Linked DNA regions of Homo sapiens: region 1 is linked to region 2. Evidence: fine-mapped expression QTL. A gene starts in region 2. The other region holds a variant in brackets. All regions are shown on one strand. Distances are between the middles of the regions.

The links.
Region 1: its variant is fine-mapped to the expression of LINC01956 in hippocampus (GTEx, PIP above 0.99). The same link has a PIP of 0.9 or more in spinal cord.

The regions. Positions count from the first base shown.
Region 1 is chr2:118,769,734-118,774,121 of GRCh38, forward strand. No RefSeq gene overlaps it. Among named protein-coding and RNA genes, the nearest start is that of LINC01956, 64 kb to the right of the region's middle. The variant T/C (reference allele first, on the strand shown) is at 2,520.
Region 2 is chr2:118,834,378-118,838,765 of GRCh38, forward strand. It overlaps LINC01956 (long intergenic non-protein coding RNA 1956), which reads right to left and starts at 1,769. Exons shown (of 3, transcript NR_199712.1): 1 at 111-1,769; 2 at 1-26.

The DNA.
Region 1 (4,388 bases), 65 kb before region 2:
TTGATAAGAAGAAGTAGGAATGGAAGGAAGGTTGGGGAGAAGACAAGAGGGAGAGAGGAAAAAAGAAAGGGAGAGAGGGAGGAAAGGAAGGAGAGGGAAGGAGGGAAGAGGGGGAAAGAGGGAGGAAGGGAGGGAAAGAGGGAGGAAGAAAAGGGAGGAAGGGGGGAAGTTTCCTGGAGAGACAACAATAATAAACTCCAATACTATGTATATTCTTCACCATTTCTAAATCCAAAAATCCCTGAATCCTATATACATGACCCCCCCTTGTCCCCATGTGTTTTAAATGAATCAAGGGTGCAATGTTAACAACAATGAAGAAGAAATGAGAGGAACAGCTGGTTCTTCCATGATTGCTGGTTCATTCATTCATTCTACAAATATTCCATGTGCCAGGCCATGCGGTCACCGCTAGGGAGAAGCATGTGACGTAGCAGATGCGCAGGTGGTGGATTTCAGCTGACTCGACTTCACCATGCGACCTTGGGCAAGTTGCCCACCTGCTCTGAGTCTGTTTCCTTCTCTGTAAGGTATGGAGGTTGAATGATCCCTAATAACCATTCCAAAGCTCATCTTCTGTTGCCTCCAAACTGTAATAATAATAATAAAAAACATTATTAACTGAGCATTTAGTCTGTACAAGGTCCTATGGTGTTTCTCTATATTATCTCAGTAGAGAAACAAGGCTTGATGTGCCCTGTTTGGTGGAAGGTATATTTCTCTATATTATCTCAGTTGATTCTCAACTGGGTTGATTCTCAACTGAGATAATATAGATACTATCAATAAATGTAATTGGAGGCAGGGAGTAGAAATGTAGGAATAATATAGTATCTATATTATCCATACTGTTATCAACTGAGGTAATAGATTCAGAATCAAATGTAATCAAATGAGGTATCGTTTGATATCTCAGTTGGGATAGGTAGAATTACCAACAGCTATTTTGTAAACAAGGAAAACTGAAGCAAAAGAGATTAGCTGACTTGTTAATGGTCAACAAGCTAGAAAATGATGACATTGAAATTTAAACAAACATTCCTCTGACCTCACTTTGCTACAAAACCCCAGGTTGTATCATGCCCTCTAACAATTCTGGACGTGGCCAGGACGTGGTGCCAAGTCTCAGGGGCAAGACAGAAGAGGCAGAAGCACATTTAGTTCTTGTGTTTAAAGCAGGTGATTGTCTCCAAGCTTCTCTGGACTTCAGGTGAACACCTTCCTTTGGTCCTCAGAACACCTCTTCCCCACATGTATGGCTGCTTAAGAAGACTTTGAGGTCGCAGGTAGAAAAGCATGGCATCCAGAAACACAGCTTCTCCTGACCAAGGCTGTCAACAGCCATGAACATCATCCATGAGCTGGTTTCCTCCAGGAGACAACTTCCTGTCCCAAACCTTCACTGGTTGCTTTCTGCCTCAGTCTACGTCATAACTGGGTGTTCTCAAGCCAGACATGGCTGCAAATAAGTTACGTTTGGCTTGATAGCTTTTAAAAATTGGAATATATCACATAAAATCCCAGATATGGGACTTTGCTTCAGAAATTAGAAGATCTGGTTACAGATGACCTACAATCCAAGAACCAGCTGGAGCTGAGTAGGAACTGACCTTTCAAATACACATGGCTGGCCACAGGCCCCACTGCTCCTTATTGCCGCGTATTGACCCCTATAGGCATTTGAATTTGGAAACCCCAGACTGCATAACCAAATCCAAGGCCTGGCACTCAAAGCCCTTTGCTACCTGGACCCCAATCTCTTGTTCCAGTCAACCTAAAACTGCTGCTCTCCAGCCTTCTGGAGTGGACCCACCCGAAGGGCTCCTTTTCATTATACCTCATCTAAGGGTCCTTCTTGTCTTCCTACACTTCTACTCCCTGCCTCCAGTTGCATTGGATTCTGCATCTTTTGGCTTCCTTTTCCTTCCCTGCCCATCTGGGATCCACACAAAAGTGTGGAAACCCTGACTCTTTTAGATCTATGCATGGAAGAACTACTGAAGAAGAACCCATTGCCTGATTCCTTGCTGCTACTCAAAGTGTGGTCCAAGAACCAGCTACCTTAACAATGCCTGGCAGCTGTCAGAAAGGCAAGATTCCAGACCTCCACCCCACACTATTAAAACCAAAGCTGAACTTTAATAAGATCTTCCAGGTGAACTGGATCACATTAAAGTTTTGGCAACCCTCACCTACTGAAAGAATTGCAAGTCAAAGCCAGGTTCAGCCTCAGGCTCAGGTACTCACCCATAAGCCCACTCCCTAGCTCTTCTCCAGGCCACTCAGCTTCTCCCACAGCACCAAGGTAGAACACAAAAGGCTCAGTAACAAATCCAGCAGGTGGCCCCTTTCTAATGAGGCAGAATTAAGCAGATCAGCGTCCCAGGACTGAAGGCATACAGCCACCTTTCACATGATGAGTGCCAGTCCCTGTGTGCCACATCAGATCAGCCTTCTGACCCCAAGCCATCCAAATATCCCTGCTCTACTGCAGAGGGTAGGAACTGAGCTAGACAAAA[T/C]AGGAAATGTTCTGAAACCAAGTGTGGTCATGAGCTCTGACCAACATGCAGGAACACTTGTAGATGCTGGAGATGGTCCAACACAAAGGATAGTGTGCATTACAGAGATGAAATGGAAAGGCAAATGGGAATATAGGACCGCTGTTGCAATCATGAGATCATATGATTCCAATACTGCTTATCCCAGTGGAGGTACAGGTTAGCTCCATTGTTCAATTTAGTAACTATTGATCAGAGAAAATGCTGTGTGCCAGGCACTGTTTCTAGGTGTGAGACAACAGACAAAAATCCATACCACCGAAGCTTACAAACTAGTGCAGGGAGACAGACAGGAAACAAGAGAAAGAAGGATAGAAAGACAGGCAGTGTCCGTGTGCGCACATGTGCCTGTGTGTTTTGAGGTGGAGGAAGCATTCTAATCATATGAGCAGCTCAACGTGGTGATAAGAGCCTTGAAGTGGGAATGAGGAGAAACTGTTCTTCTTTTGCACGTGAACTCATTTGACACTCATGATAATCTATGAGCTACAGTGGCAGGTGTCTAGGTGGCCCTGCGACCTGCTTGCCAGTGTTCACACCCCTGTGCGTTCCCCTCCCCTTCAGTGCAGGCTGCACCTGGTGACTCGGTCTAACAAATAGAAAATGGCAGAAGTGATGGGATGTCACATCTGAAATTAGACAGTAAAAAACTGGCTCCTAAATCTCTCTCTCTCTTTCTCTCTCTCTCTTTCCCTCTCTCTCTCTCTCTCTCTCTCTCGCGCGCGCGCGCGTGCGCGCGCGCCTCACTCTGGGAGAGGCTGTCAGTTGTGAGCAGCGCTATAGGCCTACGTGGTGAGCACCTGATGTCTCTGGCCAATAGCCAGCAAGGACCTGAGGCCACCAATGGCCTCATGAGTGAGCTTGAAAGCAGGTCCTTCCCCAGTCCAGCCCAGGGATGACCGCAATTCCAGCACTTTAATTGCATCTTCCTGACAGATCACCCATAAGCCACACCCATATCCTTGACCCATGGACACTGTGACTTTAGAAATGTTTGTTATTCTCAACCACTAAGTTTGGGGTAATTTGTTATACAACAGGCAATACAGGTCAAGCACAGTGGCTCATGCCTCTTATCCCAGCACTTTGGGAGGCCAAGGTGGGAAGATCGCTTGAGCCCAGGAGTTTGAGACCAGCCTGGCTACATGGTGAGACCCTGTTTCTACAAGAAATAAAAGTAAATTATCTAGGTGTGGAGGCATATGCCAGTAGTCCCAGCTACTTAGGTGGCTGAGGCGGCAGGATTGCTTGGGCCCAGGAGGTCGAGGCTGCAGTGAGCTATGATCACGCTGCTGCACTCCAGCCTGGGCAACAGAGACAGACCCTGTCTCAAAAAAAAAAAAAAAAGGTGGGGTGAGCAATACATTATATAGGCAGGTACTTTTCTTACCTCCATTTTATAGAGGATAAAACAAGGCACAGAGAAGTAAATTAACTTGTCCAGGACATACAGCAAGTAATGCCAGGGCTGAGATTTGAACCCTAACAGTCGGGCATCTAGAGCCCGTACAACTGAGCAAGGCAGGATGCTGACATATTCAAGTATGGGTTTGTGCATCTGCTCCTCTAATCGGACTGTGCTCTCCTTTTCAGATCTGTGCACCTGGCACTTGGTCATTGTCCAGCACTTAGGAAGTGCTCAGCAAATGCTAGCTGAGTGAAGCCAGGAGGGTGGAAGTGAGCAGAGCTGTCCTCTTGACTCTAGCCCACCTTGCACCAGAGAAGGGAAAACAGAAGCGGTGAGGAGAAACGTCCCCCACGTCCCCATCAGCCCCTAGTCTCCTGCATGGAGCTGGAAGCTGCGTTTTTGTTTTGTTTTGCTGAGACATA
Region 2 (4,388 bases):
CACTTTGCACCACAATGCGGTCAGCCCTGTGAGGACATGAAGAATGGATATGAAACTCGAGGCCAGATAAGCGTGGAACTAGGTTCAGCCGTCCTCCCTGGGGTACCTACCTCCCTACTCCCGACAGAGCTGTGAGCCTCCGCCTGCTGAGAGGAGGGCACTTGGGCGGACCTGAAGTTAAGAGGCCCGGGGTGAAGGCCAGAGCTCAATCTGCAGGGATAGAAGGCGCGGGAAATCCAGCAAAGGATGGAAGAACAGTCCCTGCCAGGCCGCGGCCTCCTCGCCCCCGCCTGCCCGGCCTCACCCTTCTGGAAGTTCCTCCAGGCCTGGGTGGGGGCCGCCAGGGAAGGCGCAGAGGGAGGGCAAGTTGGCGCCGCTAGTTTTAGAGAAATCCTAAGTAAACAGTGAACCCGAGCAGGAAACCTCAGCTTTGCCTGGGTAAGAGAACTGGCCACACAGCTCCAAGAAAGGAGAGGAGGAGAACAAATCTCTGCGCCCTGAGGATGGTGGCTTTATTGCGGAAAGAGGTGGTGGGGCCGGAGCTGCTCTGCAACTTCCTCTCGCCCCCTCAAAAAAAAAAAAAGTATCCCGCAGCGAGGATTTCAGAAGGGGCTCACCTGGTGCAGGAAAAGTTCAGTTGGCAGCCCTTCGCGAGCAGGTCCTCCCCAGCCCGCACCGAGAAGGCAGGCGCCCGGGCCCTCTGACTCCAGTGGCTCAGAGCCGGCTCAGGACTGGCAGGGCGAGGAGCCGGCGGGCCGAGCCAGCGAGGGTTTGGGCTGCCCGCGGTGTGTGTGCAAGAGCGCGCGCCTCGTGTAACCATTCAGGACCAGTTGAAGCAACACAAATAAAGTCAGGTCTCTTCAGCCTTGCTGTCCACCCCTCCCCCTCTTCCTGGTTTGACCCTGGCCTGGCCGCTCTGAGGCCCAGTTTGCGCAGCCGACATTGCGTGGCTACTCTCATTACCAGGGGAAGGGCGCTCCCCTTTTCCCTGGTAATACTCCGGGAGCCCCTACTCGGAAGCCCAAGAGTCAAAGGGATACAGGGGTGACTGGAGAGCAGCGGGGGACAGCGTGGCCTCACCCAAGGTCAGCGCTGGTCCCCACGTGTCGGCCGGGGGAGGGGAGGGGAGCGGACAGTCGGAGCGTTCGGATGTCCAGTTGAGCCGCGGCGCGGGGCAGCCGGGGGCGCAAAGTTGGAGGCAGGGCTGGGCGACGAGGAGAGAGGGAGGGCCGGGAGCCGAAGGGACGCCCGGGTGCACCCCGCTGCAGAGGCCGAGTCCGAGCGGCCGGAGAAGGCTGGTCGCAGAAGGGCGGCCTCCGGTGCAAAAAACGGAAACCTTGGAGCAGAGGATGAGGAGGAATACGGAGGCGGGGAGCCCACAGAAAAAGATGTTGAGGAAAGAAGAGGAGACCCCGGCCTAAACAAATCGAAACTGTGCAATGAACGTGGCCCGGGAGAACCGGGGGTGAGGGGCGATGGCTGGAGCTGCGGCCCAAGCACAGCTTTCAGACGCTTGCCCGGACCCTGGCGCGGGGAGGCGGCCGGGACTGCCTTTCTGCGCGCGTCCCTGGAGAGCGGGTGGGCAGGACCTGCGCCCCGCGGTGGGCAAGAAGATTTGGGGTTTCGCAGTTCCTGGGGTCGGGGGCGGGGGTGAAGTGCCCTCAGAGACCTCGGCGGAGCCCCAGTTGCGCTCCCATCTCCAGCCCCCACTGGAGAGAGGGGGTCCAGGGCCGTACCCTCCTGCGGCCTGGGCTGCGCTGACCGGAAGTGCCTGTAAGAAGCGCCCTCCGCGGACCGTGCCGGGCGCGGGCAGCTCCAGCCGGGTTGGAGCAAGGCCAAGACGCCCGGATGGGGCGGGCCGTTTCGGCGGACCCAGTCTGGACGCAGGTGCGGGAGGAAAGTGTGAGGGGGGAAACTGCTGATTGTGCGGGGATAGGGGCATCTTAATCTGGGAAAAGATCGGAATCTCTTGGGACGCTAATCTGAGACCCGGGTCGGAGGTGTAGAGTAGGGGTGTGTGAGCAGGAACTCGGACCTGAGTTACAGAGTAAGAGGGAAGAGGGCTGGAGAGGTGCTGAGGCTACTCCTAGTTAAGACTGAAGGAGAGGAGAGGAGGGATAACAGCCCTTCACGCAAATCAGTGCTCCCCCTGCTCCCCCAGGTGCCAAAGTCCAGGACCAATGTGGAGACTTGACACTGCGCTATGCGACTGCGAATCATTCTTCTATTTATAAGTAACTACAGTATAGACTTCAACGTGATTTGGTGAGACCTTAGCAGGATGACCCTGGACCTCACTTTTCTTATCTGTAAGGTGGGGATTATAATAGGCAACACACAGAAATGTATGTTGTTGAAGGAAATAAATTGTGTTAAATGGCTAGCAATGTGCACGGAAGACCCTCAGTGATTAATGATCATGTTAATTTTGAATTTCTGGGAGTGACATCTTCTGAATTGCCTGCACTCTGCTAAATGGACAAGTCCTGTACCTGGAGGTGAAGGGGCGGGGGAAGGGCAAGGAGAGCCCTGCTGTGGTCGTTACTGGGACTCGCTTTTGTTTTCTTCAGGATTCAGTATTGAAATTGGGAGTGTGGAGGCGGCTTCTCCCCAGCTCTCTCCGTCCAGTTTTCCACTGTGTTCTATTTATCAGATGGCAGAGCCGTGGGTCTCGCTGCAGGAAATGGTTGCTGTCAGGGCCCGATTGCTGCTGTCAGGGCCCAAGCCCACTCTTGCAGTAGTCGTGGTTGAATCAGAAATTCTCCTGGGTCCCTTCTGTCTTTGGACTCTCATCTCTCTCACAGGAGGCTCCCGCCCCTCTGCGCTGGTCCTGGAGGCCTGCAGACCAGGTCTTCAGGAGGAGGGGAGGATGCGAGCACCCCAGATGGAGCTTTCTCCGTGCGCTTGTGTGGTGGCAGGGGGCAGAGAGGAATCTAAGTTGTGCCCGGCTTTATACCCCACTCCTCATCAGAGTTGAGGAGGGGGAGGCGAGTACTCACTAGTCTCCTCTACAATCCCCTGCCCCCTCCTGGCACTCCCACCCACCTGCCTGCCAAAGGCAGAGTCACAGGCTGTTGATAAGAATACTCTCTTCAGGATGTGTGTGCATGCACACACACAATACATTTCTGCTTTTCTATTGGGTCACACATACCTAGAGTCTTCCATTACTATAGCCTGAAATCTTCCCAAATGTCCTCAAAACACCCCACCCCCATACCTGTGGGGAGAATTCCAGAGTGGAGGGGCCCACTCCATCTCCAGAGTGGCACCCAGGTGGAGAAGGCTGTATTCGAAGCAAATTCAAGGAGCAAATTTTAATGGCCCATGACTTACCAAGCCTCTGAGAAATCTGTTTGGGATGTTTACCTCCTCTTGCCCTGGGTCTGCTCCGGTCCCAAGAGCTACAGCTGGCAGAGCACTGAGTGTACTTGCTGGTGGGAGAGGGTTGTAGCATTGGGTCTGTGTCTGAGCACAGGCACCTGGACTGGACCAGCTGCCTCCAGGGGAGAGAGAAGGGGCTGCCTCTCCTTTTGGTGGCTTCCACAGAAAGGAGAGGGCACACAGGTCTGTCCTGAGCCCTGGAAACAATGTCTTTTCCCTCCCCTGGCTAGGGGTGAAGCCCACCAGCTGGGGCATGCAGGTGCATCTTGGACACCAGTATGTGTATTCCTGGCTCATGTATAGTTGTGTGCCAGAACCTTCTACACAGGCAATGTCCATGTGCTTGCTGTGAACACACTGTATATTGGTCCACTGACATTTGTATACATGCCTATGTTTTGCATGTGTGCATATGTATCCACATGGGTGTGTGCATGCTTATGCATTTGTATGTGTGGAAGTGTGTACATGTGTGCATTGTGACTGCATGCATGTTGACATTACCCACTTGACGGCACAGTGAGGAGAGGCCTGGACTGATAGGAAATCTGAGGACTTTGCCTCTCATTTGCCTTGTGCTTTCTCTTGGGGCACTTTCTCTCTCAGGATTTTGTAATTCAAGAATCTCTGAGGACCCTTCCAACACTGACATTGCATTAAAAGACTGGCCTAAAGCATTTGGGGAGGCGTGGAGGCTGGCAGAGTCCCTAGCCCTTCCCCTTTCCACAGGTTGCCAAAGAAGAGAAACCCTCTCCTCAGAGTTCAAAGTGAGAGAGGACAATGGAGGTTTCTGGTGGGAGTGAGGAGGGATGAAGATACTCTGCCACCTCCCACAGACGGGGATGAGCATAGTCTTCCATTTGAACCCACTGTGACATCCAGACTAAAAGGGTCCAGGCTCTGAGGTGAAGCTGGGGAGGACACCTGGATGCCTCTCTGCCCTTCTCTGCCCTGCTCCCCTGTATGGTGGAAGCAGAGGATAGTGGGTTGACTAGATCGCCAGA